4 linked regions of the Homo sapiens genome follow. The protein of the gene in region 1 binds, or shares a complex with, the protein of each later gene. Each region holds a gene or a part of one and is shown on either strand. Other genes may lie near its edges.

Region 1 (7,431 bases):
TGCTGTGTTCGCACCACTGCACTCCATCCTGGGTGACAGAGAGACCCTGTCTCAAAAAATAATAAAATGAAAATATATGATTTGTATGTATTTCAAAAGTACACTTACTCCATCAAGTGGAATAGAGTAGTTTGTCTTTTGTAGCGACTCTGGGGAATTTCAGCAAATTTTAAAAAGATAATTTTCTTTTGTAGCAAAAATAATATGTGTCCACGATAGAACATTTAGAAAATAGGAAAACGAAGAAAATATCACCCATAATCTCAATGCCAGGAATAACCACTAAGTGTATTTTCACGCCGGGTGTGGTGGCTCACGCCTGTAATCCCAGCACTTTGGGAGGCCGAGGCGGGTGGATCATGAGGTCAGGAGATCGAGATCATCCTGGCTAACACGGTGAAACCCCGTCTCTACTAAAAATACAAAAAATCAGCCGGGCGTGGTGGCGGGCGCCTGTAGTCCCAGCTACTCAGGAGGCTGAGGCAGGAGAATGGCTTCAACCTGGGAGGCAGAGCTTGCAGTGAGCCGAGATCGCGCCACTGCACTCCAGCGTGGGTGACAGAGCAAGACTCCGTCTCAAAAAATAAAAAAAGAAAAAAGAAGTATATTTTCACCTGAATCCTTTGGATATTCTTTTTTTCTACCATGAGTTGTCTGAGAACACACTATTTCAAGGTACTGTGTTTAACAAGGACCGAAGAGATTTAAAAGTTGAGTCCTTTCTCCTAAAGAGCCTACTGTCCAAAAAGAGGGTAAAACTAATACAAAAATACCTTTAAGAACTTACACTGGGCTGGGCGCGGTGCTCACACCTGTAATCCCTGCACTTTGAGAGGCCGAGGCGGGGGGATCACAAGGTCAGGAGAGCAAGACCATCCTGGCCAACATGGTGAAACCCCATCTCTACTAAAAAATACAAAAATTAGCTGGGCGTGGTCAGGTGCGTGCCTGTAAACCCAGCTACTCAGGAGGCTGAGGCACGAGAATCACTTGAACCCGGGAGGCAGAAGTTGCAGTGAGCCGAGATCGCGCCATTGCACTCCAGCCTGAAGACAGAGGAAGACTCTGTCTCCAAAAAAAAAAAAAAAAAAAAAAAACTTCATTGTGTTTGGCTGTTCTGGTGCAATGGAAAAAAATTTTTAAATATAGGTTAAATACTGGTCCAGTAACTCCCACTCCTTACTGTGCATCAGGATCATTTGAGTGCATTTTGTGGCTTGTGTGTGTGTGTTTTAAAACATTTGTGCCTTGGTCCCACCCCTAGAAATTCTGACACAGTAGTACAACTTTGTTGCATCTGGAGTAAGGTTTAGAAATCAGAGTATTTTTAAACTTCCGCAAGGTGATTTTAATGAGTCTCAGAGCTGAGAACCATTGAGCTAGATGGGTCATTTATTAAAATATTAGGAAACAGACTTGATGTATCATCGTAGATCTACCCTTAAGTCATGTGCTCCAAAACTCATGCATCGTTCTTTTTTTTTTTTTTTTTTTTTTAATTTATCACTGACTTGGAGCTCACAAAGCCCGTGCATCTAAGAAGAAAAGATGTAAAGGAAGCATATCAGCATATCAGTCTTTGTTGAAGTCTTCTTTATCTTAGTTCTAAAAGGATAGATAGGGAATGGAGGGCAGGGCCTCCGTGTTCAGTTGAGCAGTTTTTTGCACCACACAAAGGTGTCTGGCTGAGTGCTCAAGTGGGAGCTAAAAGCTCTTTTTCCTTCATCAAGCCTTACATGTGTGAGACTTCATCAGCCTATAAAAGGCAACTTTTTTCTCATTGGCACAAAGATACCATATGGACTAGGGATGGCCCTGAAAAATGGAAACACAGTTGTAGATGTTTATATTAAAAAAAATAGCAATAAGCTAATAAAATTCTGCTTTTTTAGCCCCTGTGCTACCGAATTTACTGCTTGTTAGCATTTGGTTGGCTAGATCTTTTAATGTTAATTAAGTATTGCCAGGATGTGGAGGAGGAAATACTGACAAGCTGTACTAGACCCACCCACATGCAGAACAAAAATAGCTCACACAGGAATTACTGATCTTGAGCTTCTTTAATCATTTTAACTTCTTATAGCAAGAAAGTGAACAGTTAGGTCAATTATGACCATCATTGATGGCCATTTTCAGTATCACATAGCAAAAATTGTTAGTATATATTGATTTTCTTTGTTGAACAATTTTTGCAAGATAGAGCTGCTTTTTTTTTTGCCAGCTAGTTTTCCAGCAAGAAAAATTTTGATTTACCACCAACTTCTTTTCATCTTTTCTTTTCTGTAGATAAACTATCTAATGGGGCAGAGAGGGAACCCGTTTGTGAACTATGAAAAATTAGCTTCACTAGTGTCCTCTTAATTTAGCTATTATTATTATTTCCATGAATGTCTGAGGAAAGAGGAAACATGGCCACTTTTGTAAGTCAGTTTGCCAACAGAGCTCGGCCCTTCTGAGCAAAGTGCAGTCCTCAGTGCACACAAATGATAAGTTTTAATACGTTTAATATGTTCATAATACGTTTAATACGTTGAAGATATACAGTTTGAGTTTAATTTGGTTCTTGCACAGCAGACCACTAATGACCATAAATATCTTTGTGTTTCTTTAAGAAAAGGACAAAGAACATGAGGGAAGCATAATATCATATATTTATATCTTGTAAAGACATGAATGAAGGTAAAAACCAAAGGGCAGAGATCTGAAAGTAGGTTTAATTCATGCCGTTGTGCCATTTACCTCAGCAATCAAGATCGGAACATTTCTTTGATACTTCCAATAACGCTCAGGTTTACAGAATGAGGACTCCAATAATAAAATGTTTATTTAATTGATTTACATATAAGCCTGGAGGCAGCCTAGTTTAGAGGAAAAAGTCTGGATTGTATCTGGCTCTTGGGACCTTAGGCAAGTCACTCAGTCCTCTGAACCTGTTTCGTCATCTTGAAAGTGGTGTTCTGAACACTTAGTTTGCAGTGTTGTATATATTAGAAAAGGGATGGTCTAGACTGGAAGAATATCTAAAATGTATCTGAAATGTAGGTGTTCAATAGATGGTTGCTATTTTCATGATTGCATGTCAATGACACCAGAAACTGAACAGTTTGTCAGAACCCTGGCACATGAAAGTATGGTAGGAGAAAAGAGAGAGCAAAGAAAGTGAACTCCAGCCCTGGTTTGTCTGTCCCTAGTGTTAGGGCTGAGAGATTCATGGATGGTCATTTATACCTTCATTCAACAAATGTTGAATGCCTGCTATGCGTTAAAAAAATTAGGCAAGGCCCTGCTCTCATGGTGCTCACATTCTAGAAAGGGGGACATAATTGCATGAATAAAATAATTTTGTTGATAAGTATAATGGATGATTAAACAGGGTGAGTGACAGTAATTTAGGGGTTTTTCAGATTGGAGGGACAAGGAAGACCTCTTTGGGAATGTGGCATTTGAACTGAAATCTGAATGAAGAGAAGGATAGAGGCATGGTGACCTGGGGAAAAGTAGTCCAAGCAGTGGGAACAGCAAATTCAAATGGCCCAAGTGGAAGAGACCTTGACAAGTATGAAGAACAAAAAGCAAGCTGTCTGGTGTGGCTGGAATTAGTAGAGAAGGCAGGAAACAGGAAATGAAGTCACACACACAAGACCAGATCCCAAAGGACTTTTTGCATTTTGTATACCATAGGCCTTCATGCCACTCTTGTGAGTCTGTGCTTCTCAATGTAGATACATTTTACTTCTTTCCTTTATATTTGTAATAAAGACATACTTTTAGAAGGGATGCAATGACAACTGTGAAAATGTATAGAGCTTATTGTGTAGACTGGTTGTCAGTTTGGTTTCTTTCCTTTGAAGGTAGCAATTCTCAGACATGTGCAGGTGTCAAAGAATCTGCACATTGCAGTGCTGTTTTTGGAACACCATAAAATATTGGAGTAGTCAGTTCTATCTCTGCACAGGGAAGAGATTTTCAGCAGAAAAATCTGACTATATATAGAGATAGATAAATAGATAGAGATTCCGATTTTTACATCACAAGTAACCACACAGTTTTTAAGTCTTCACTTCCAAGGTTTTATTTTTATTTTTATTTTTTTATTTTATTTTATTTTTTGAGACGGAGTCTCTCTCTGTCGCCCAGGCTGGAGTGCGGTGGTGTGATCTTGGCTCACTGCAGCCTCCGCCCTCTGGGTTCAAGCAGTTCTCCTGCCTCAGCCTCCCCAGTAGCTGGAATTACAGGCATCCACCACCACGCCTGGCTAATTTTTGTATTTTTAGTAGAGAGGGGGTTTCACCATTTTGGCCAGGCTGGTCTTGAACTCCTGACCTCAGGTGATCCGCCTGCCTCAGCCTCCCAAAGTGCTGATATTATAGGCGTGAGCCACTGCACACAGTCCAAGTTTTTTTAACTGGTGTTCATTTGCTAGTATTTTCTACCAGGCAAGCTAAGAAAATTATTTTTAAAAAAACTTTAAAATCTGAAAACAACACATGCATCAGCTTTTGTTCTTGGTGAATTTTCTGATTAATGTATTATGTTAGTAACAGAAGATCAGTGTGTTCCAGGAGTATAGTTTGAGATTCTCTAGTCTAAAGGGTCTAAAAGTGAAAGTTGGGTAAAAGAATAACAGGGAGGAAAGTTTTTGCTTCCAGTTTTTTATTTTTATCCAGCAGTAAAATTTTAGAAGACTGTAGGGAACCAAAGAGTGTAGGTTAGTTTTTACCTCTTCCATGGCCTAGGAATCACAGAAACCCTCATCAGAGGTTTGAGGGGACAGCGGTGGAATTCTGGGAAGCAGAATGCTTTAGCTGGTTGGTGGGAAGAAAATGGGAGACCAGTCTTCCCAGTGCTTCTCTGAGAAAAATGTTCCCAGAGAATTGGGTCAATAGATGATGCAAGTTCTTCACAGCTTCTAATCCCCTGTCTCCTGGAACCACATTGCTGTGCATGAGGACCACCAGCTTCTTACCTCAGAGGGTCTGCTTCCACCCTCTGCCTCAGAACATGGAAGCCATTATCAGTGGCTTAGAGCTGGCAAGACCCAGGTTCAGTGTGAGACCAAGGGGAGGAAAGAGTGGATAGCCGTCTCACCAGTTGGCATAGGTTGGAACTCAGAATTAATTTCACCATAGAAATTGTGCCCTAATAGTGATTAAGTGCTTTACCACTGTTAATATATTATTTCAGGTACTTTTATTTGAGGAGAGGGGAATGGTGAGGAAAACATAAATTGCCTGCAGTTAGAAACCATGTGCTTTGTTGACAAAATTTTGATCCTCTGTGTTGCCCCATTTTCAGATACTCTTTTTCATAAAATTGGGAAAAAATGGGAATAAATGAATATTAATTTTCTGCGGCAGTGAATAACTGATGCCATCTCAGTCCACTTGTGCATTAAAAAGAGAAACATTCTGTGGTTCCATGCTTCTCATCAATAGGGTCTTTTACAAACATGTTACTGTACGTGGCTGATTTCGTTTACTAGACAATTCTGAGGAAGGTATGAGTGCTTTTAGACTTGGCCACGTAGTAACTCCAATTTATCTAGATCACAAACAATAGGAAAGTTCAACAGTCTGGGAGTTTCCAAAGCCCTATACCATATAATGGTAACCTTTGAATCAGAGAAAAAAAGTTGTTATAGTTTGTGTTAAGTGACTTCTATTTTATTCGTGAAAATTGCTATGTATACCTTATATGGATAATATACCCTATATAGAAATGCCTGGATAAACATTGAAAGTGGCAGGGAAATTATTTTTAAAATTATTTGAAACAGGCCAACCTGGGAGGGATGAAGAGAACTGAAGAGTTACAAGGGGAGATGTCCTGGAAACTGGAGAACACTGCAAAAGGAATAAAGTTTATCCAGATGTATTGTTAAGTGAAACACATCAAAGGACAGTGTACCATGATCTGCCTTGTATTGAAACAAAACCATGTGTGTTTGTAAATGCGTAGAAGGCCTAGAAGGGTGGGGATTACTTCTGGAGAGTGTTAAAGGGACTCACTTTTTCCTTCCATCCTTTTGTTTTGTTTGAATTTTTATAGGGAGCAGGTATTACTTTTATAAACATTAAGAATTTAAAAATGTAAAAATTGTTAGAGACCAAGAGGAATAGTTTTGCCCCATTGAGGCTGACAGTCAGTGGGAAGTGTTATATGGCAAGAGTGTGATGTGGGACAGATATCAGTGGCCTCATCTAATTCCAGATTCCGGAGATCTCGGGAGCCAAGGCAGCAGGAAAAGCAGTTAGACTGTAGGAGGGACTTCAGTGACCTGGGCAGGTAGAGTTGGCGGCGGGAGGGGCCATGGAGAAATCAGAAACATCAGGAAGTAAAAGAAGGTGAATAGAAGACCCAGGGAGGCATAGGAGTAGTATAACGAATATGTATATTTTGGAGGAACCAGATAAGAACTGATATTTGAGTTGTTAGCTTTTTGAGGGACTGGCCAATCTCATTCATCTTTGTATCCTCTTTTGCCTACTTCAGTGACTTGCATGTAGTAGAAACCATTAAATGTTGAATGTTGTATGAGTTCGGCAAATCTGTACAGCCCTATGCTTTGGTCTCCTTTTATGACAGGAGGGTATTGTGTTAGATCCTTTCCAAGGACCTTTTTGGCTACATAGTCTTCTTCACCTGATTTCCATAAACCCCATACGTTAAATAATATATTCGTATGTGATTGTTTTACTAATGTGACTATATACAATACTTGGTGCAGTAGCCTTTTAAAGTAAAGAAACCTCAAAAGATTGGCTGATCCATACTAATAGTAGCGCCTTGGTACACACAAGTTTATAAATCTCTCTGCATTGAAAAGGCCCCAGAGAAAGTGGGACATAAACATCTTTAGTTTATAGGGTTCTGCAGGGAAAACTATAAGAGACACATAACATTTTTGTTCCCATAACCATCTGGAAAGATAATATCTTCATTATGTTCTCATTTCTGCTGAGGATCTTAAAGAATATCACATGAAATGCTGAAACTTTCATATTTGCAATAGAGATTGTAGAGCTGTCAGCATTTGAATGTCTCATTAGTGAGAGGAGAGGAAAGGCAAATTAACACTTTTTCTTTTTGACAGTTACATATTTTAAAGAAAAATGAGTAAAGGAAAAAGCAAGATTATTTTCATCAGAAGATGTTTTAATTGCCTTTTATATTGTCTTATTTAAATGCCATAATAGAGCCATAAATATGATATTAATAGATTATAAATATCTGCTTACATAAATAATATATCCTCTCTTCCTCCCTTCTATGAAGATTGAAAAGGCCAAACCTATTAAATGTGGAACATTTGGTGCAACATCTTTACAGCAGAGATATTTAGCTACTGGAGATTTTGGTGGAAACCTTCATATATGGTAAGATGATTTAGTCAGTATTCAGACAGATGAGATAGGCAATTTATTTGATAGT
Region 2 (7,431 bases), on another chromosome or scaffold:
CCACCATGCCTTGCGAAGCCTGTGGGTGGGAGGCGCACATGAGGTGATTTCCTGTGGGGCTACCATGGCATTTCTACCACATCAGGAAGCTAGTGAGATGGAAGCAGACATTACTAGCTGGGACTTCTAGGAAAAGCCAAAAAAGCTTTCCCTGCTTTTTTTTTTTTTTTTTTTTTTTTTGAGACAAGATCTCGCTCTGTCACCCAGGCTGAAGTACAGTGGTACAATCATGGCTCACTGTAGCCTTGACCTCTAGGGATCAAGAGATCCTTCCACCTCAGCCTCTTGAGTAGCTGGGACCACAAATGTGCACCACCATGTCCAGCTAATTTTTAAAATTTTTTGTAGAAAGGAGGTGTCACTATGTTACCCAGGCTGGCCTCAAGCTCTTAGGCTCAAGCAATCTTCCCATCTCAGCCTCCCAAAGTATTGGGATTACAAGTGTGAGCCATTGCACCCAGTCTAACTTTTTTTTAAGGTGGCAAAGCAATTGCTACCCACTCCCAATTCTTTTTTTTTTTTTCCGAGATGTCACCCAGGCTGGAGGGCAGTGGCACAATCTCGGCTCATTGCAACCTCCACCTCCCAGGTTCAAGCAATTCTCCTGCCTTAGGCTCTTGAGTAGCTGGAATTACAGGCATGCACCACCATGCCCGGCTAATTTTTGTATTTTTAGTAGAGACAGGGTTTCACCATGTTGGTCAGGCTGGTCTTGACTCTGACTTCAGGTGATCCACCCACCTTGGCCTCCCAAAGTGCTGAGATTACAGGCATGAGCCACCACACCTAGCCTAATCAATTCTTTAGTACCAAGAAAACCCACATGTGGTTGAAGTTTATGGGTATGTAGCCAAAGGTCCAGAAGACCGTAACATAGTCCCCACACTCCCCAGGACCCTGGGTACCCACTACCCAAGACCTTCATGGAGAGGCCCTCACACCCCAGCCTCCTCTGCTCTACCTGCCGAGGCTCCAAGGCATCGTCCAGCCCCAGTCCCCGGATGTGGGAGTGGGCACCTACATGAAGGGAAAGAACAAAGACTCAGTTACTAGCCAGCTTGCTGCACATGTGGCCTGACCCCTCTGAGCCCTGGTTTCCTTCTTTGTCAAAGGGGTGGGTGGGAGTAGGGAGCAGGGGTTGGGGGAATGAAGGGGCACATGGAAAGGATATCCCAAATTGGCACCTCCCTAGGAAGATGGCTGAATGTGGTAAATGCTCAATGAACTGGAGCTGCTCTGAGGATGCATCCTAGTTAAACAAAAGTCACTGAGGCCTGATTAAGCACATAATTGTACTAAGATCTAACCACAAGGGCTAATGATCACAATTACTTCATGTTTATGGTTTACACAGCACCCACATGTTCTCAGTTTATTCCATATGATCCTGCAAAAAAAGAGCCCTGGCTGGGGCCGGGCGCAGTGGCTCCTGCCTATAATCCCAGCACTTTGGGAGGCCGAGGCGGGCGGATCACTGGAGGTCAGGAGTTCGAGACCAGCCTGGCCAACATGGTGAAACCCTGTCTCTACTAAAAATACAAAAATTAGCTGGGCATGGTGGCAGATGACTGTAATCCCAGCTTCTCAGGAGGCTGAGGCAGGAGAATTGCTTGAACCTGGGAGGCGGAGGTTGCAGTGAGCCAAGATTGTGCCACTGCATTCTAGCCTGGATGACAGAGCAAGACCTGTCTCAGTAAAACAAAATAAAATGAAACAAGAGCCCTGGCTGCTATCACCCTGAAAGCACTTCTGAGTATCAAAATGGCAACAGTCCCAGAACCTATTGATATGAATGGGGAGGGAGCTCAGAGAGGTTAGGTCCCATGCCCCAGCCACACAGCCAGCGAGAGGGGAAGATGGGATTCCCATGCTTTACATTAGATGAGGGTTGAGCAAACCTCAGCCTGGAGGCCAGCCACCTGTTTTTGCAAATAAAATTTTATTGGAGCTGGGTACGGTGGCTCACGCTTATAATCCCAGCACTTCGGGAGGCAGAGGCAAGCAGATCACCTGAGGTCAGGAGTTCGAGACTAGCCTGGCCAACATGGTGAAACCCCGTCTCTACTAAAAAATACAAAAATTAGCCTGGCGTGGTGGCATGCACCTGTAGTCTCAGATACTCGGGAGGCTGAGGCATGAGAGTCACTTAAACCAGGGAGGTGGAGGTTGCAGTGAACTGAGATCGCCCCACTGCACTCCAGCCTGGGCAACACAGTGAGACTCCATCTCAAAAAAAAAACAACAAAAAACCAACCAAAAAATCTTTGTATTGGAACACTGCCATTTATATACTGTCTGTGGCTGCCTTCGCACTGCAAGAGGAGAGTTGAGTAGTTTCAACAGAGGAAGGATTTACCATCTGACCCTTTAAGAAAGATTTGCTAGGGTCCAGGCGTGGTGGCTCACGCCTGTAATCCCAGCATTTTGGGAGGCCGAGGCAGGCGGATCACGAGGTCAGGAGATAGACACCATCCTGGCTAACACAGTGAAACCACGTCTCTACTAAAAATATAAAAAATTAGACGGCCGTGGTGTCAGGCGCCTGTAGTCCCAGCTACTCGGAAGGCTGACAGGAGAATGGTGTGAACCCGGGAGGTGGAGCTTGCAGTGAGCCAAGATTGCGCCACTGCACTCCAGCCTGGGGGACAGAATGAGACTCCGTCTCAAAAAAAAAAATAAAATAAAATAAGGAAAGATTTGCTGACCCCAGTGCTTGACTGTGAGCACCCCAAGGGAGGCTCCTGGGTGCAGCTAGTCTCTACTGGGTCCTCAGCTCACAAGCGGTGCTTGGCTCTTCATCCTTTTTTTTTTTTTTTAATTTTTTATTGTTTTTTGGCCAGGCGCGGTGGCTCATGCCTGTAATTCCAGCACTTTGGGAGGCCGAGGCGGGCGGATCACGAGGTCAGGAGATCGAGACCATCCTGGCTAACACGGGGAAACTCCATCTCTACTAAAAACGCAAAAAAATTAGCCGGGCATGGTGGCGGGCGCCTGTAGTCCCAGCTACTCGGGAGGCTGAGGCAGGAGAATGGCGTGAACCCGGGAGGCAGAGCTTGCAGTGAGCCGAGATTGCGCCACTGCACTCCAGCCTGGGCGACAGAGCGAGACTCCGTCTCCAAAAAAAAAAAAAAATGTTTTTATTTTTATTTTTTGAGAGAGCGTCTCACTCTGTCACCCAGGCTGGAGTGCATGGTGCAGTCACATCTCACCACATCCTGAACCTCCTTGGTTCAAGCAGTTCTCCCAAGTAGCTGGGACTCAGGCATGGACCACCACTGCCGGCTAATTTTTTTATTTTTTTTTTAGAGACAGGATCACACTATGTGACTCAGGCTGGTCTTGAACTCCTGATTCAAGCAATCCTCCTGACTCCACCTCTCAAAGTGCTAGGATTACAGGCGTGACCCATCATGCCCGGCCATACTTGGCACTTTTTGTTTGTTTTTGAGATGGAGTCACTCTGTCACCCAAGCTGGAGTGCAGTGGCACGATATTGGCTCACTGCAACCTCTGCCTCCCAGGTTCAAGCCATCCTCCCTAGTAGCTGGGACTATAGGCATGCACCACCATGCCTGGCTAATTTTTGTATTTTTAGTAGAGACAGGGTTTCACCATGTTGGCCAAGCTGGTCTCAAACTCCTGACTTCAGGTGATCCACCCGCCTCGGCCTCCCAAAGTGCTGGGATTACAGGCGTGAGCTACAGCACCCAGTCTCGGCACTTTTATTTATTTATTTATTGAGAGACAGAGTTTCACTCTTGTCACCCAGGCTGGAGTGCAATGGCATGATCTTGGCTCACTGCAACCTCCACCTCCTCGTTCAAGCAATTTTCCTGCCTCAGCCTCCCGAGTAGCTGGGATTACAGGCACGCGCCACCACGCCCAGCAAATTTTTGTATTTTTAGTAGAGACGAGGTTTCACCATGTTGGCCAGGCTGGTCTCAAATTCCTGACCTCAGGTGATCCGCCCACCTTGGCCTTCCAAAGTGCTGGAATTACAGGCATGAGCCACTGCACCCAGTGCCCCAGCACTTTTAATAGATGAAACAGTGTTGGCACACAGACCCAAAATGCTTTATATGAACTACCTTACTGAATCTTACATTAACTGATGAGGTAAACTATCTTAGCTTCGTCTTGCAGATAAGGAAACTGAGGCACAGAGAGGAACTAGTCCCTGGCCACATGGTGGGAAAGTGGCAGAGCTAAGCTCCAGGAATCCAGCACTGGGCTTCTAAAACCCATCTTCACAGCCAGAAGCCCTTACTGCCTTTCTCGGATGCCCTGAATCAGTGAGCCTGCTGCATGAATGAATGCGGTCACTTCCCTGCCGGTAAAGCTCTTTGTGAGAGCGCACCCTGCTGGCCTCACTGCGTCTCAACTTCCTGCTCTGTGTGAGCCGGGGCCAGTGATTTAGCTGTCCTGAAAATCAGTTCCCTCAGCTAACAGTTACAATATGCACCTCATGCGGCTACTGCGAGGGCTCCACAGGACGCAAACTCGTGCATTCAATGGTTATCTCTTGATCATCTGCTCTGTTAGGTCCTGTGCTAGGGACACAGCTAGGAATGACACGACCTCGTCCCTGCCCTCAGGGAACTCACCCCACAGTGTGTACTGGGTATACGAGGCCAAACCCAGTAAAGCACCCAGTAAATATCTATGACTTCCAGGCAAACATACCCGGGAACCCCACCAGGATAGCCAGGATAGCAGCCTGGTCCCCAGTGCATCATCTGACCCAACTCTGGAACTGAGGATCCTCCTCCCCCATTAGATAGGGCGAGTGGGGGAATGGTAGTGGGGGCACAGTTGGTGTGCAGGCCACCTCCCTCTCCATCTTAGGGGTCCTCAATAGGTTTGCTCTGTCAGGGCACATGGCAGGCAGGGCTTAGGTCCTATTCCTGACCCAACTCACTCACCGATTCGCTCAATCCTTGTTACATCACGGATCTCCGGGACTTTGGTTGTGGCTGTCTGGGGGTGCAAGAAGATGTGTCAGAGGACTAGTGTGGTCCCAGCTTTCACCAACCCCTCCTCTGTCCCTCCCATGAGATGGTCCTTTCCACTCCTTCCCCTCACAGGCAGGCGATGGGACAGGCACCAGTCACCCCCACCCCTCTTGCCTGTCACTGCCTAATGGCTGGTTGGTTGAGCCCCAGGAAGACAAGGACTGTCTGTCTCATCGACAGCTTGGTCCTCAGGGTCCAGCACATATTTGGTTATTTGGTGAATGAATGAAATCCTCCCTGTTTCTTTTTTTTTTTTTGAGATGAAGTCTCGCTCTGTCACCCAGGCTGGAGTGCAGTGGCCCAATCTCGGCTCACTGCAACCTCCGCCTCCTGGGTTCAAGAAATTCTCTGCCTCAGCCTCCTGACTAGCTGGGATTACAGGCGCGCATCAACACACCCGGCTAATTTTTGTATTTTTAGTAGAGATGGGGTTTTGCCATGTTGGCCAGGCTGGTCTCAAACTCCTGGCCTCAAGTGATACACCAGCCTTGGCCTCCCAGAGTGCTGGGATTATGGGCGTGAGCCACTGTGCCCGGCTAAGTCCTCCCCATTTCTTTTTTTTTTTTCTTATTTTTTGAGACGGAGTCTGCTCTGTCGCCCAGGTTGGAGTGCAGTGGCCCGATCTCAGCTCATTGCAACCTCCGCCTCCTGGGTTTAACCGATTCTCCCGCCTCAGCCTCCTGAGTAGCTGGGACTACAGGCGCACACCACCACACTTGGCTAATTTTTTTTGTATTTTTAATAGAGATGGGGTTTCGCCCATCTCTACTGGGGTTGGCCAGGCTGGTCTCGAACTCCTGACCTCAAGTGATCTGCCCACCAAGGCCTCCCAAAGTGCTGGGATTACAGGTGTGAACCACCGTGCCCAGACAAGTCCTCCCCATTTCTAATAACTGTGAGCTCCATAAGGACAGACACCAATGAGGAGCAGGCATGGAGCTGGACATGCTCTGGCCCCTGCTAATTTCCCAGCATCCCTTGTACCAGGCGGCCCCAGTTCTCAACCACCAGGCCTTGCACATGCTGGCCCCTGAGTCCAGACTGCTCTCCCTGCCCTCTCACTGAATTAGATCAAGTGCTGCCCCCTAGGGGAGGCCCTTTCTGTCCAACAGCCCTGCCAGGCTAGTTCTAGGACCTCTAGACATTCAGACAGATGAAAGGCCTCCCTGGGAGCCCGATCTCCCTGTGTGATCTCACATTCCCGAGGGAGATGGATGGATCAATATTCTCTGCTCCAGTGGACATGAGTCCCATGAAGGGCACGGCCTGTTCTCTCTTGTTCACCTCGGGACTCAATGTCTGTGGTTTGCTAAGTGATACTCTAAAGTGCTGAGCTCATTCAACAAGAATATACCGAGGCTTCCCATGTTGACAGTTCTCCACAGAGAGGAGCCAGCTACCACCCCTTCTCACATGGGGGAGGGAGGTGAGTAAACACCACCCGGGACAATTCAGGACCCCCCCAGAGGTCCACACAAAACATGGACACGAGTGTTCACGGCAGCACTATTCACAACAGCCAAAAGATAGAAACAACCCACATGTCCATCAGCTGATGAATGGCAAAATAAAACAGGGTCTATTTGTGCAAAGGAATATTATTCAGTCATAAAAAGGAATGGAGTTCTTTTTTCTTTTCTTTTTTTTTTTTTTTTGAGACATAGTCTCACTCTGTCACCTAGGCTGGAGTGCAATGGCGCAATCTTGGCTCACTACAACCTCTGCTTCCTGGGTTCAAGTGATTCTTCTGCCTCAGCCTCCCGAGTAGCTGGGATTACAGGTGTCCGCCACCACACCTGGCTAATATTTTTTTGTATTTTTTAGTAGAGATGGGGTTTCACCATGTTGGCCAGGCTGGTCTTGAACTCCTGACCTCAGGTGATCCACCTGCCTTGGCACCCCAAAGCGTTGGGGTTATAGGCGTGAGCCACCGCGCCCGGCCAGGAATGGAGTTCTGATACATGCTACAACGTGGATGAACTTTGAAAACATTATACTGACTGAAAGAAGCCACACACGAAAGACACATATGGTATGATTCCATCTATATGAAGTAGCCACAATAGGCAAATCCATATACAGAGAAAGATTAGTGGCTGCCTAGAACTGAAGATGGGAGGTATGGAAGGATTAGCGGTGACAGGTAAGAGGCATGGGGTTTCTTTTTGGGGTGACGACAATGTTCTAAAATTGACTGTGGAAATGGCTGCACAAGTCTGTGAATATACTAGAAAACACTGAGCTGTATACTTTAAATGGGTGAATTATGTAGTACGTGAATTCTATCTCAATAAAGCTATTAAGAAAAAAAAAAAACAACAGGCTGGGCGTAGTGGCTCCCACCTGTAATACCAGCACTTTGGGAGGCTGAAGCAGGCAAATCACTTGAGGTCAGGGGTTCGAGACCAGCCTGGCCAAC
Region 3 (7,431 bases), on another chromosome or scaffold:
TCAGGAGTTCGAGACCAGCCTGGCCAACATGGTGAAACCCCATCTCTACTAAAAATACAAAAAATTAGCTGGATGTGGTGGCGTGTGCCTGTAGTCCCAGCTACTTGGGAGGCTGAGGCAAAAGAATCGCTTGAACCCAGGAGGCAGACGTTGCAGTGAGCTGAGATCACACCACTGCACTCCAACCTAGGCAACAGAGCGAGACTCTGTCTCAAAAAAAAAAACAAAAACAAAAACAAAAATAAAAATTAAAAAAAAAAAAAAAACAAGGCTGGGTGTGGTGGCTCACCCCTATAATCCCACCACTTTGGGAGGCCAAGGCCAGCAGATCATTTGAGGTCAGGAGTTCAAGACCAGCCTGGCTGACATGGTGCAACCCTGTCTCTACTAAAAATAATACCAAAAAATTAACTGGGTATGGTGGCACATGTCTGTAATCCCAGCTACTCAGAAGGCTGAGGCAGGAGAATCGCTTGAACCTGGGCGACAGAGGTTGCGGTGAGCCAAGATCGCACCATTACACTCCAGCCTGGGCACAAGACCGAAACTCCGTCTCAAAAAAAAAAAAAAGGAGAATCACTTGAACCCAGGACATAGAGGATGCAGTGAGCTGAGACTGCGCCACTGCACTCCAGCCTGGGCAATAGAGTGAGACTCCATCTCAAAAAAAAAAACAAAAAACAAAAAAAACCTCTGGACAAATAATGCACGATTTACAGCCACTTTTCTTGAATTTCTTGAATCGTATTCCAAAGTAAGATCAATGAGTCAAAAAGGCATTAGCATTATTATAGCTTCCACTGCATGTCGCTAGAAAGCTCTCCAAGATGACCAGATTAATTTATACTGCTACCAGCAATATCATGATTATATCTCTTCTCTTTCCCCAGAGCCCTAATGGTAACTTTTATTATTTTTGTTACTTTAATAATTTTTAGAGTTGGAATGTAACTCCAGAAACCTTGGAATCATCCTTGATTCACTATCCACATCAAATTAATTACATGTGTACTACTTATTATACCCTCCTGATTTCTATACTGCCTCCTGATTTGCCCCCTTTAATCTACTCCCCACACTGCAGCATAAGTGACCAAAAATATAAATCTAACCAATTATTCCTTTGCCTAAAACCTTCTCAATGCTCACAGGATAAAATCTGAACTCCTCAAAAAGTCATATAAAGACCGGGTTCCAGTTTACCTCTCCCAATCAGTTGTTCCCTCCACATCTTAACTCAGCACTCAGTGTCCTAAGTCACTGGTAGTTTCCCTTAACAGCTGTCTTCAGGCATCTGCATAGAATCTTCACCCTACGTTTGGTATACTTTCCCAAACCTCTCTCATTCAGTTTTTCTCTGCTTAAGTCTAGTTCTTTCTTCAGGTTTCAACTTAGATTCTTCTGGGAAGCAGAAGAATCTGGCCATCTTCCATTCCCATATGTTAACCCTTTATATGTGCTCATATAAAAATGCATATTAGTTACTTAAATAATTTGACAAAATCTTTTCTATTTATATTGTGTTATTTTCCACCATGCAGACTGCCTTCTATTCTTTATCTTCTTTTAAAATTGTAAATATGCAAATGCAACCTATTTTAAAATATCTATTTCTTTCATAGTCCTACTATAATCTGCCTTCCACAGTCTCAAGAGTAAAGGAACACCTACTATATGCCAGGCACTGTGCTAGACTATCTCATTTAATTCTAAAAAACAAAAAAGACGGTAAGACCTGTACCTTCAATTTGTAAATAAGGAGACCAAGGCTGGTGGAGTGTTGTGTGGTGGTCAAAATAACATAGTGTGGATCCAGGCACGGTGGCTCACGCCTGTAATCCCAACACTTTGGGAGGCAGAGGTGGGCTGATCACTTCAGGCCAGGAGTTCGAGACCAGTCTGGCTAACATGGTGAAACCCTGCAGATCACTTGAGGCCAGGAGTTCCAGATCAGCCTGGCCAACACGGTGAAACCCCATCCCTAATAAAAATACAAAAATTAGCTGGGCGTGGTGGGGGGAGGGTGCCTGTAATCCCAGTTACTCGGGAGGCTGAGGCAGGAGAATCGCTTGAACCTGGGAGGCGGAAGTTGCAGTGAACCCAGATTGTGCCATTACACTCCAGCCTGGGTGACAGAGCAAGACTGTGTCTCACAAACACAAAACAAAATAGTGTGGGATGGGCGCAGTAGCTCACTCCTGTAATCCTATTACCTTGGCAGGCTGAGGCAGGCAGACCACTTGAGCTCAGGAGTTCGAGACCAGCCTGGCCAACATGGTGAAACCCCATCTCTACTAAAAATACAAAAAATTAGTCGGGTATGGTGGCTTATGCCTGTAGTCCCAGCTACTCGGGAGGCTGAGGCAAAAGAATTGCTTGCACCTGGGAGGCGGGGGTTGCAATGAGCCAACACCACACCACTGCACTCCAGCCTGGGTGACAGAGCAAGGCTCCGTCTCCAAAAATAAAAAATAAAATAACCTAGTGAAGTGCAGAAATCATACCTGTACCCAGGTTTGTCTTAACTCTAAAAATCTCTGTTAATATATTATTCCTGGCTTATCAAATATTAATTTCTTATCAAAGCAAATTTATATTCCTGTTTTCTTTTTTGTTTACCATATAGTTTTAATAATTTTAGGAAAAAATCTATAATCATTACCTTTCTCTCCAAAATGTCCTAGGGTCTTCTTACATGACATTTACTCTTACTGGTTTCAATAGAAGAATAGAAGAGGTAGAGAGTTATGATTGGATGAACCTGGAAAAGCATGATCTGGGATACTGCTCCACTAATTACCTTCTTTTCAGTTCAGTGCCCCCTTTTCTGAAGAACATACTCAACTCTCTGTCAAAGAAAACTTCTTTGACCTTATTACTCCATCAAATAATAGTACTCATCCCTTCTCTTCATGAAATTTTTTTTTTTTTTTTGTAGAGACTTTTTTTTTTTTTTGAGATGGAGTCTCGCTCTGTCGCCCAGGCTGGAGTGCAGTGGCATGATATCGGCTCACTGCAACCTGCACCTCCCAGGTTCAAGCAATTCTCCTGCCTCAGCCTCCCGAGTAGGTGGGACTACAGGCGCCCGCCAATGCGCCCGGCTAACTTTTTGTATTTTTTAGTAGAGATGTGGTTTCACCATGTTAGCCAGGATGGTCTCAATCTCCTGACCTTGTGATCCGCCCGCCTCAGCCTCCCAAAGTGCTGGGATTACAGGTGTTAGCCACTGCGCCCAGCCCGAGATGGGGGTCTTACTATGTTGCCCAGGCTGGTTTCAAACTCGTGGCTTCAAGAGATCCTCCTGCCTCAGCCTCCCCAAGTACTGGGATCCAAGTAGCAACATAGTAAAGTGGAAAGAACCCAAACTTCTTATTCTGACCTGGGTTGAAATCCCAGTTTTGCCATTTACTTGCTATATGACTGAGTCACTTAACTTTCCTTGTTTCCTCATTTATAAAATGGACTTAATATAATATACCACAGGGCAGGGTTTCTCAACATTGTCACTACTGACATGTTAGGCCAAATCATTCTTTGCTAGGAGGGCTGTCTCAGGCATTATAGGATGTTTAACAAATCCCTGGACTATACCCACTAAAAGTCAGTAGCAACCCCTTTGATTTGTGACAACCAAAAATGTCTCCAGACACTGCCAGATGTCTCCTAGGAAAAGATAATGCCAGTTGAGAATCACTGCTACAGGGTAACAATGAGAACTAACTGAGATAATAGGTCAAGTGCCCGATACAATGTAGATCTTCGACTCCCCTTTGGTTTCCAGGTCCCTTCAGTTCTCCTTCCTATCTCAAGCCTCCTTCTTTCTCCTTTCTGAAAGTTCTTCCTCTTTCACTCCCACAATGGCCACAGGATCTAAGATTCTATTCATAGCACTTCTTCATTACCTACATTATTTTTGAAATTATTTTTTATTGATTCATAATCATATTTTCATGGTATTGTGATAATTTGATATATTCATATAATCAAATCAGGGTAACCTATACTATTTCAAGTGGCATTCTTAGCTACTTCTATAGTTCCAGCAATTGCCTTTATTCTACTTGCCTGCAAAACCAGGCCTTTTCAGAAATTCTAGTCCCACATTTACAAGTTAGAGGAAGGAGCTTTTTTGTGCCTGACAGAAATGGCTTAACGTCAGACCATGACAAGTTACTTCTTTTCTGAATGTTTCTTCACCAATAAAATACAGATTAATACCTGTCTCACAGAATGCATAAGTATTAATTACTTCTTTTCTGATGTTTCTTCACCAATAAAATACAGATAATACCTGCCTCACAGAATGTTGTAAGGATTAAGTAATTACATCAAGAACTTAGGACAATATCTATCATATAACAAGTTTTCAATAAATAGTAGCTGCTATTATTACAGATCATCTCCACCTAAATGTCCCATGGATATCTTAAACTCATGTTGTTCAAAGCTGAAGTGATCTTATCTCTTCTATTTCTGCTACTGACATCACTCTAGGCCTCCTGGTAGGAAACCTTAGTTTCATCTTTTGTTTTGTTTTTAAAGATGGGGTCTCCCTATGCTGCTCAGACTGGTGAAAAGTGGTTATTCACAGGCACAATTATAGCACACTATAGCTTCAAACTCCCAGACTCAAGTGATCCTCCTGTCTCAGCTTCCTGAGTAGCTGGGACTACAGGCACTTGCCACCATACCCAGGTTCATCTTTGAACATACCATAATCCCATGAACTGCCAAATGTATTGCACTTAGTTTAGCAATTTCTCTTAGGCTCACTGACATAACCCTAGTTCAGATGTTCATTACATTCTTATCTGAATTACTGCAATAGTCTTCTAAATGATCCTATTTTTAGACTCCCCAAACCTACCCTACACACTGCTAATTTAATCTTCCTAACACTTAGATGACATAGAAAAATGTTCAACATATACTATTAGGCTTAAAAAACAGATTACAAACCAGTACATACTGTAGTATAATCCTAATTTTATAAAATATGTAAAAAAAAAAAAAAGCTCCCCCTTCCATCCACACATATATACACAAAAAGACAAAGGAGGGGGGAAAAAATCTCTCAAAGGATATACTCCTAAATGGCAAGAAAAGTTATCTCTGGATAGTTGGATTATGGGCAATTTATTTCCTGGTTTGAACTTTTTCCTTTGTTTTCTGCAGTTCCGACAATAAATGTATTATTTTATATAAGAGTTAAACAATTAATAATATAACATATATCCTTCTGTGACTTCCTCACTGCTTATGTTAAAAAGTCATAAATTCTTTGGCATGCACTCAAAGACCTCTATGGCCTTATTCAACTACTCTCCTCTTATCATATTCCCTACTTTCTATTCCCACTGCTACCTGTTCAAATCCATCCACTCCTTCAGGGTTCTGCTCAAATACCTCTAACATAATCATGGCATAAGTGAAAAAAATACCTGATTCTTAAGTCCCTCATTTAAAAATCCTGCTCTTCCAGTTACTGACCTTGGGCAAGTTAACTAAAGCCTCTGAAATTAAAATGTCCTCACCTATAAATGGAGGACAACACAACCTACTTCAAATGGCAGTAATTGAATAACAGAAGGTAGGCCTGAGCGGTGGCTCAGCTCATGCCTGTAATCCTAGCACTTTGGGAAGCCAAGGCAGGTGGACTGCTTGAGCCCAAGAGTTCAAGACCAGCCTGGGCAACATGGCAAAACTCCATCTCTACAAGAAATACAAAAATTAGCTGGGCAGGGTGGCACACGCATGTAGTCCCAGTAACTTGGGAGGCTGAGGTAGAAGGATCACCTGAGCCTTGGGAGGTTGAGGCTGCAGTGAGCCGTGATCGCACCACTGCACTCCAGCCTGGGCAACAGAATGAGACCCTGTCTCAGTCAGTAACAGAAGGTAAAACAAGTGTCTAACACAATGTGTTATTTGCTTCCATCTTGTTTGTAAGGGACATATGTGGCTCAAATTTGCAGCAGTGATAAATCTTGTAATGTTTTACCCAGTGTTCTCTCCAGAATAAACAAAGGCAAGAGAATGTTAATCAAGGAACAGCCTCAAAACTCACTTATCACACTTCCTCAGTTTCCTGAGGGAAGTTTGAGGGGTTCTCTTTAGCTCCCCTAAAACAGTGGTTCCACTCTTGTTCTACTTCTTTTTTCACTTTCTGTACAAACTATGGAAAGTGATCATTTTTATCCATAACCACGGCTTTATCATCCATAAACTCAATTCTCAAATCTGTATCTCCAACTCAGATTTCTTACTGTATCTCAAGATTTAAAAATCAAAGTGTCTACTGAATGTTTAACCTGGGTGTCCCACAAGAAACCTAAACTCAAAATCCTAAAATAAACTTACATTTCCCCCAAAATTGTCTGTCTTCCTACATTCCTTATGGCACCATTATCCACCAAAGACAGAAACCTGAGAGACATCTTATATTCCTCTTTTACCCCCTTTTCTCCATATTCAAGTTCTGTAATCCACCTCAAACATTAAGTCCCACCTGCATCCCAAACATGCCAGGCAGTTTCACGCCTTAGTGTTTTGGAACACATTTATTCCCTCTACCTAGAAAATCTTCCACTTCCTTCTTTGCTTGACTAACTTCTCTCATCCTTTAGAATTGAGCTGAAGGATTTTTCTCCTCTAGAAAACAAAAGCTAACTAGCATTTACTAAACACACACTATATTCTAATCACTGTGCAAAACACTTCGCATGCATTGTCTTGCCTAATACTCTAAATTCAGTGATGAGGTAGGTATTGTTATGTTTCTACAGATGGGGGAGGCCAAGATGTAACTCATGGGAGGTCATATATAAATAGTAAATAGTAGAAATGAAATTCAAACTTAGGTCTGACCCTAGTGCATAAGAATGCTCTTAGCCACCCTACTATACCACAGCTTCCCTTATCCAGCCCCTACCCCCACAATCCTACAACCTCGTGATTAGTTAGGGGTCTCTCCTCTGCTGCCATAATGAAGGGATTGTGCAGCACACTATAAATCTTTATTGTTTGGTTTGTCTTTTCTCAAATGAGTCTGAGTAAAGCAATTTGAAGACAAAGTCTGTTTCATGTACAATAGTCTCTCATTATCCAGAGTTATCCAATGTCTGAAAATAAATGGAAAATTCCAGAAATAAACAATTCATACTTTTTGTGTGTTTGTTTTTTGAGACAAGAGTCTCGCTCTTTGCCCAGGCTGGAGTGCAATGGCGTAATCTTGGCTCACTGCAACCTCTGCCTCCCGGATTCAAGCGATTCTCCCTGCCTCAGCCTCTTGGGTAGCTAGGATTACAGGTGCCCGCCACCACACCTGGCTAATTTTTTTATTTTTAGTAGCGATGGGGTTTCGCCATGTTGGCCAAGCTGGTCTCGAACTCCTGACCTCAGATGATCCACCCACCTCGGTATCCCAAAGTGCTG
Region 4 (7,498 bases), about 120 Mb from region 1:
TAAAGTATAAAAAAAAGAAAAAAGAAAAATAATAGTTTTTATAAACCATTGAACAAAGAAAACTTTAGGCACAGATAAATTCACTGGAAAATTCTATATAATATTAATAGAAGAAATAACATTAATTCTACAAAAACTCTTCCAAAACATAGAAAGGAAGTATTAAAATAATAAATCGGAAGGCCATTACACTGAAGCAGCTCTAGAGCTGAGTGCCTACCTAAACAAACCAAAAGCTAAAAGGTTATATTCTAGGTAAACAGAACTTAGCTTAACCAATCAGAAACCAACAACTAACCTCTAACTAGGGATTTTCCAATGGAATGATCCAAATAAGGCTACTGGTCCACTTTAACCAATCAAATATTTTCTTTGCCTTGCATCCATATTTGAATCTTTGGGAAAGAGGTGGACAGTGGCACTCATATGGAATAGTTCTAGAAGAAGCCAAGATAATTTCGATTAACCTTCTTTATAGCTGTCAGACTATGTGAAGATACAACAGGCATGGGCAGCATATAAAACATCTTTCATTGGTGACATTCACAAACCACACTGACCTCTAGATTGTAAAACAGAACTACCAACAATGAAATTTTCAAATCCAACTGGCAGGAGAGCAGTGGATTGGAAAGAAGACGAATATGCTTAGATGAGGCATGTGAGGCACCTGGGCAGAAAATTTAAAGAGCACTTACTGCAGGACCTGAGAGTCAGTGCATCTTCAAATTTGCACCCTACCACACTCACCACATCCTGTTTCAGCCCTGCACAAGAGCTCCAAAGTGAAGTTGGCTGCAAGCGTCAGGGAGGCCTGATGTCCGCATTCCACAGCTTTGAAGCAAAGCTTGAGAACCAGCCTTATCTCAAGTAAAAAGGATTTACTAATCTCTAGACCAGTACTTGGAAACTCTGCCATTTCCCTTGAGAGACCAAGACCAGCCTGATGTGCTTTGTTACTAGGGCGACAAAGCATTCTCCCTGCGTTCTCCCTGCAAAGAGTTTATGGTAAGGATCCAGTAGTTCCTTTCCCAGATCCTAGAGCCTTGTGGAAAACATCAGTCCAATATCTCAGGCCCTGTCACCTTCTGGCAGAATTATTGATATAAATCACCTATTTAGACTGTGATATTACCTCTCCTTTGACTTCACCCCCTTGGTCCTACAGCCTACCTTACTTCCCCCTCTCCAACCCCCTCCCCCCACCGGCAATTACCAGCACTGTCTACTTGCTGAGATTTCCCTTTGGTCTGCTAGTCTACGCCTCTTAGAAGAGTCTGTAGTTGAGTCTGTCTCCTTTCAAATGACTTCCAGTCTGTCCTACCCATCAGAGTTAACAGAACCATCCAATCACTGTGACAACCAACAGTACCTCCAAACATTTTTTCAAGCATCAGCTAGGGAAACCCCTAGCTCTGTTGAGAATCACTGGAAGAGAAGACATAGTTTCCAGTTGTATGGTGGGCTGCAGATGGGCAGTCCTGAGCCAGTTAGGCATGACACATGGTACTAGCTAACCCCAAAGCTGACTTCAAGCAATGCAGAAGTTAGAGCAGCTGAAGGAGGAAATAGAAGCAAATAGATAAATATTTTTTAAATAAGACAAAGTGTGAAAGCACTTTTAAGACAGTTTAGCACCATACTAAAATTATTATCACCACTTTGTTTAGTACTATTTTGTTTAGTACTATGTTGTCTTGGGCAGCCCTTGTGAATAAACAAAAACATCAGAACCTGGCAGAGCCGTAAGCAACAGCCCACTTCCCAAAACGGGGTGAACAGCTGTAGACCAATCAGCGGTGTTGGGTGTTTCCGGCTACTCGATGTGGACATGATTGTGAGTCAGAACCAATTCAAACTTTAACCAGAGCTCCCACTCTGCCAGACACTATAATAGAAGGTGGGGTACAAAGAAGACCAATAGGCTAGGATGCTCAGTCTCATCAGCTTTACAGATAAGCCTCACTATTACCTCTAAACAAAGTGGAAGCCAGTCCTGGCAGCGCACACCTATAACCCCAGCATTTTGGAAGGCTGAGGCGGGCAGATAGCTGGAAGCCAGGACTTTGAGACCAGCCTGGCCAACATACTGAAACCCCATCTCTACTAAAAATACAAAAATCAGCCGGGCATGGTGGCACACACTTGTAATCCCAGGTACTTGGGAAGCTGAGGCAGGAGAATAGCTTGAATCCAGAAGGCAGAGGTTGCAGTGAGCAGAGATCGCACCACTGCACTCCAGCCAGGGCAACAGAGAAAGACTGTGTCTCAAAATAACAACAACAACAAAGTGAAGTGATACTTCACTTTGGAGCTCTCTTTTTCCTAAACTTGGATTCTTAAAATGTTTCTAAGCTAGCAGTTTTGTAAGAACTTTTTTCCTTAAAAATCTGGCACATTTAAAGTATTGGAAATTCTGGGCTTTTAAAAATATTGGGATTATACCAGTGCTTATTTTTCTCTATAAACTAGTCAGAACAGAGGCCCTTTAATTAGAGATACTATAGTGGGATTTATTAATACACTCCAGAAGTAGGGAAATATTTCATATTTACAAAGGGAGACATAAAGCCTGTTCTAAGTTACAGACACACAGACACATAAAGAGGTTATTGCTTCTGTCTTACAACTTCAATCTCAGGTCAAAAGTAAACACAAAACCACAAAAATTCACCAGTTCTTCTGCTTGAGCGGCCTTTATGTTAAAACAAACAAACAAAACCTTACTAGCCCACATCTCAAATAGCTGTCCTCCTTCCCTCTCAGTGGACACAAAAGTAATTAATTAATTTGAGCTCACAAACAATAAACAAAAAGACTTACAAACTCGCTTCTCTGTCACCTCTCTTATTTATTTATTTGAACCCCTGGCCTCAAGTAATCCTCCCACCTCAGCCCCGAGTGGTTGCGATTACAGGTTTGAGCCACTGCACCTATCTACCTCTCTACCAATGAGACTAGACGTCCATCATCCAACAGATACCACCAAATGGTTAGACCACAAAACCAAACTCCCAATCATTGCTGCTATCAATGTATCAGTAATGTATAAGTTATACCTGAATAACTTATCAGGAATGTACAAATCAGAAATGAAAACACAATCTTTAAAAATCAATTATAAAGGAAAAATATATAACCACTTGGGTTTTCTGTAAGAGCAAATAAAAAACATGCCTGGCCTTAAACAACCCATGATGTATACATTTCTTTCGCCAGATAGTTTGATTCATCACATAAATCCAGTTGGGCATCTCTGTGGAAACTTAAGATTTCCAATAATATAGTATAATTATCAAAAACCTAAAATCATGTCTCTAATGTGAACATAAAATATATACATGTCAAACTTTTATTCAACTCATTGGTTAGTGAGGGAACCGATGACTTTAAAACCAATACAGAATATTAGAGAAGCTAGGCATATGTTAATAAAGAAATGTTAGGACAGAATGCAGGGTTAGATACAAAACTGACTAATGTGTTGCAGAACAATAAATCATAACCTGTGTTGGTATCTGGTACAACAAAAAATTATTTGCATCTCTACCAAACCAAAATCTCTACCAAAGTTAACCTTTGCCCCTACAGAATTGTAAAACAGCCCAGTCAATATAATAAAGTCAAGTCCAGAGCAGCACTGAAAGAGCATCCAGTAAATAAATCTCTTTTGCCTATTTCCAAGTTTTAGTCATTTTTTCCACAGAAATGAGATATTGCAAATATTGCACGGGACATAGATGCACTAAAAAACTATTAATTCATCTGAAGTTCATACTGTATTTTATCCGGCAACCCTAACCACGAGTTAACCAAAACTTTACCAAGTCTGTACAGTTCTTTTGCCAACACGGTATCTCTTAAATCTGTTCCTTAGCTTCATCTTTCCCTAGATAATAAATATCATATTAAGCGCTGTTTCTATTGCACGACTATTCTTCATATTTACCACTGGAGGGCGCACAGAACTCGTAGTATACTAGATAAGAGGTCATGAAGAAACCACCTGAGCGTTTCTGCATCTCAACCACAAGAGGCCAGTACAGGAACCTCAGATTTTGCAACCAGACTGTTTACTCGCTCCCTAAGCAGCCATGCGCAGGCGCGAAACTCCTCCCCAGGCCAGACCCGGCCTGCGCATGCGTTCAAGTGAGCGCGCAGACGCTATTGGTAAGACTCGCGGGAAAAGAAAGGGTGAGCGCGGCTGGAAGCGCGCATGCGCTGTGGCTAATGCCGTAGGCTCCTTCAGGGCTGAGCCATCCCGCGTGTCTTGCGCTCGGTGGAAATGCCCAGCCGAGGGACGCGACCAGAGGACAGCTCTGTGCTGATCCCCACCGACAATTCGACCCCACACAAGGAGGATCTAAGCAGCAAGGTGAGTGTGAGACGCGACGAAAAGGCTCCTGGACTCGGGACCGGGCGCCACTGGACCCTGAAGGTGGTCCGCAGCGGGCAGCGTGGGGCCTGCCTGGGCCTCGGCTTTGCCCTGCTACTTTGCTCTTTTTATTCATAGCACTTGACAGCCACAGTTAGTCCTTTTATTTTCTGAAAACAGTTGCGAAAAGGGAGATCTTGAAATTTGTCCCGAGACTGGACCCAGGTGACAGTGGGGCGGAGTTTTGGTTGGGTGTTTTCCTCCCTAGTCTTTTTAAACTTTTGGAAATACCGCCCACCCCAAATCTGTTCCATCAAAGATATTCTCCATCCAGTTAACCATGCCAGCAACCCGGGGTCCATCCTTGACCCCCATCATGGAAGCCTATCAGTTCTACCTTTGAAGCTCATTTCAAATATGTCCCTTTATCACCGTGAACACTCTTACCACCCCAAATAAGCCACCGTCATCTGCTATCGGGACCCCTGCCCCCGGCAAGGCCTTCCTAAGCGGTCTCTCCTCATCCACCTGTTAGCTGCTGCTTCTCCGTTAACCAGAGCAATGGTCCTAAAACACGCATTGGGTTGTCACTCATACCAAACTGGGGGAGAGAGGAAGCCAATATAATATAAGCCTTAACTGCCATAAACAAACAACCTTTAAAGATAAATGGGGGTGGCGAGGGTTATAGCCCTTCAGGTATTACATGTCCTAGATTCTACTTTGGTTCTGTCCCAAACTTACAATGACATCTTGGGCAAGTCTCTTTAATCTTTCTGTATCAGTTACCTTCTTTGAAGTAAAGTGAAATGTACACCTGTCATTCCTAAAATGGGAAAGCCCTGTATAAATGTTAAGTCTCAAAGAATGTTTACAAATTTGGCCTTGGAATTCAACCTCATTACTACAGCTCTGCCAACGGGGGAGACAGAAAGGTGCACATTCATGGGGATTGGGGGTGAATTTTCAAAAGACACACAGCCCATTCTGATTACCACCATAGCAAGCCACTTACGCATACTGGTGGTTACAGATCCCTGAGGTGTGTGTGAGGTAGCACAAATATGATAAAAGCTGCTTTTAGAGGCTCTTGTGATACTATGTAATCAGTCATGTTCACAAAATAAATAGAGTTAAAAAGAAACTTAGTTTTCACTTAGTTGAGCCCTCCCCTACAAATAAATGAAGCCCAGGCCAGCATGGTGGCCCAGGCCTGTAGTCCCAGCTACTCGGAGGCTAAGGTGTGAGAATCGCCTGAGCCCGGGAAGATCAAAGCTGCAGTGAGCCGTGATCGCACCACTGCACTCCAGCCTGGGTAACAGAGCAAGACCCTGTTTCAAAAAAAAAAAAAAAAAAAAAGCCCAGTTCAACAGTGCCAGCTCTATGCTAGTCATTGAGATAAAAAGAGGGAAAAATACCAAGATGGAACATGATAGGTCTTACTGTCCCCAAATAGGGCATTGCTTGATTTGAATGTTTGACTGCAGCACTTAGTACATAAAATCATGAAAATATTGAAAAAAGTAACCCACCCCTCATTCAATTTGCTTTTTTTTAAATCTAAATCACAACTTAATTTTCAATCTAAATCACAACTTAATTCCTTTTGGTGTATATCATATATATATATTTTTTAAATTATTTATTTATTTATTTTTTTGAGACGGAGTTTCACTCTTGTTGCCCAGGCTAGAGTGCAGTGGTGCAATCTTGGCTCACTGCAGCCTCCGCCTCCCGGGTTCAAGCAGTTCTCCTGCCTCAGCCTCCCGAATAGCTGGGATTACAGGCATGTGCCACTACGCTTGGCTAATTTTGTATTTTTAGTAGAGATGGGGTGTCTGCATGTTGGTCAGGCTGGTCTCGAACTCCCGACTTCAGGTGATCCGCCCGCCTTGGCCTCCCGAAGTGCTGGGATTACAGGCATGAGCCACCGCACCCGGCCTGGTGTATATCATATATTTTTAACAAAAGGTATAAACCTTGTTTAGTAACTGTAGTCCTTGGCATGATTGCTGGTTATGAACACGAAAATCCCTGTCTGGTCTTAATGGGTTACCTAACATTTTGCAAGTCTAATCACTGTTTTTTCTCCTCCAGCTTTTCCTGAACTGTACCCCCACACAGAGACTCCTGTTGAAAATGATCTGTATATTCACAAACTGCCCGTTTGGAAAACCAGTACATCATAGCCCCTTATCCCATCTCTAATTTTAAAACAACCCCTTAAGGGATTTTCATTGAGCATACTTTGAAAACATCTGACTTAAGGAGTTTTTCTTTATTTCAATAGATTAAAGAACAAAAAATTGTGGTGGATGAACTTTCTAACCTTAAGAAGAATAGGGTGAGTTATTATAGGAATTCTGAATAATATGTGGGAGGTTTATTTATGTTAACTATATATTAAAGTTATAAGAAGTATATATAAGATTTAATCATACTTTAATAAAATGTATAGTATTTCAGCATCTTTTAAAATTGCAAGTGTCTAGATTCTTTTTTTAAATGGATAGATCTCATAGCTGAAGATGTCTTTTTTCTATCATATGCCATTCACATTGCCTTTGCAACAAATGATACTAGTTGTATTTTGGTATCTTGGAGCTATAATCACTAATGATGTTTTATACCTGAATTTGATGTTTTCTTTTGATATAAACGAACTTTATATTGAGATGAGAAGAAACTTTTCTTTTAAATGAATGTGGATAATTATTGAACAAAAAAGGATACATTGCTTCCCCTCCCTCCAAAAAATTTTTACATAGATTTTCCTAAATGTGTAACATGGTTATTTAATGCCATTTCCATTAATATGTTACAAACAAGTAAGCTACTGCTTTGTGTATGGTTATAGTGTCAAATTGCATTTTAACATTCAGGAAGAAATGAGTTTGAGCTCTTAAAAGCTTTGTAAAGATTATGTAATAACTGGCTGGTTAGATATTTCTGATATTGTCACTTATGGAATATTAGAAGTTGAGGCACATACAAAAATTAGCCAGGCGTGTGCCTGTAATCCCAGCTACTCAGGAGGCCGAGGCACAAGAATCGCTTGAACCTGGGAGGCAGAGGTTGCAGTGAGCTGAGCACACCACTGCACTCCAGCCTAGGCTACAGAGC

The links.
Region 2: DNAAF10 (region 1) and RUVBL2 share a complex: the UniProt entries of both Homo sapiens proteins name them as parts of the PAQosome complex.
Region 3: DNAAF10 (region 1) and PFDN2 share a complex: the UniProt entries of both Homo sapiens proteins name them as parts of the PAQosome complex.
Region 4: DNAAF10 (region 1) and ASDURF share a complex: the UniProt entries of both Homo sapiens proteins name them as parts of the PAQosome complex.

The regions. Positions count from the first base shown.
Region 1 is NC_000002.12:68,147,412-68,154,842, reverse strand, and holds part of DNAAF10 (dynein axonemal assembly factor 10), read left to right. Parts: intron 1-7,275; coding exon 7,276-7,376; intron 7,377-7,431. UniProt on the Homo sapiens protein: Key assembly factor specifically required for the stability of axonemal dynein heavy chains in cytoplasm.
Region 2 is NC_000019.10:48,996,865-49,004,295, reverse strand, and holds part of RUVBL2 (ruvB-like 2), read right to left. Parts: intron 4,978-7,431; coding exon 4,923-4,977; intron 1,018-4,922; coding exon 962-1,017; intron 90-961; exon of another isoform or gene 41-89; coding exon of another isoform or gene 20-40; coding exon 1-19. UniProt on the Homo sapiens protein: Possesses single-stranded DNA-stimulated ATPase and ATP-dependent DNA helicase (5' to 3') activity; hexamerization is thought to be critical for ATP hydrolysis and adjacent subunits in the ring-like structure contribute to the ATPase activity.
Region 3 is NC_000001.11:161,107,902-161,115,332, forward strand, and holds part of PFDN2 (prefoldin subunit 2), read right to left. Parts: intron 2,712-7,431; exon of another isoform or gene 2,663-2,711; intron 1-2,662. UniProt on the Homo sapiens protein: Binds specifically to cytosolic chaperonin (c-CPN) and transfers target proteins to it. Binds to nascent polypeptide chain and promotes folding in an environment in which there are many competing pathways for nonnative proteins.
Region 4 is NC_000002.12:189,657,236-189,664,733, forward strand, and holds the start of ASDURF (ASDURF protein), read left to right. Parts: upstream 1-4,223; 5' UTR 4,224-4,285; coding exon 4,286-4,375; intron 4,376-6,665; coding exon 6,666-6,719; intron 6,720-7,498.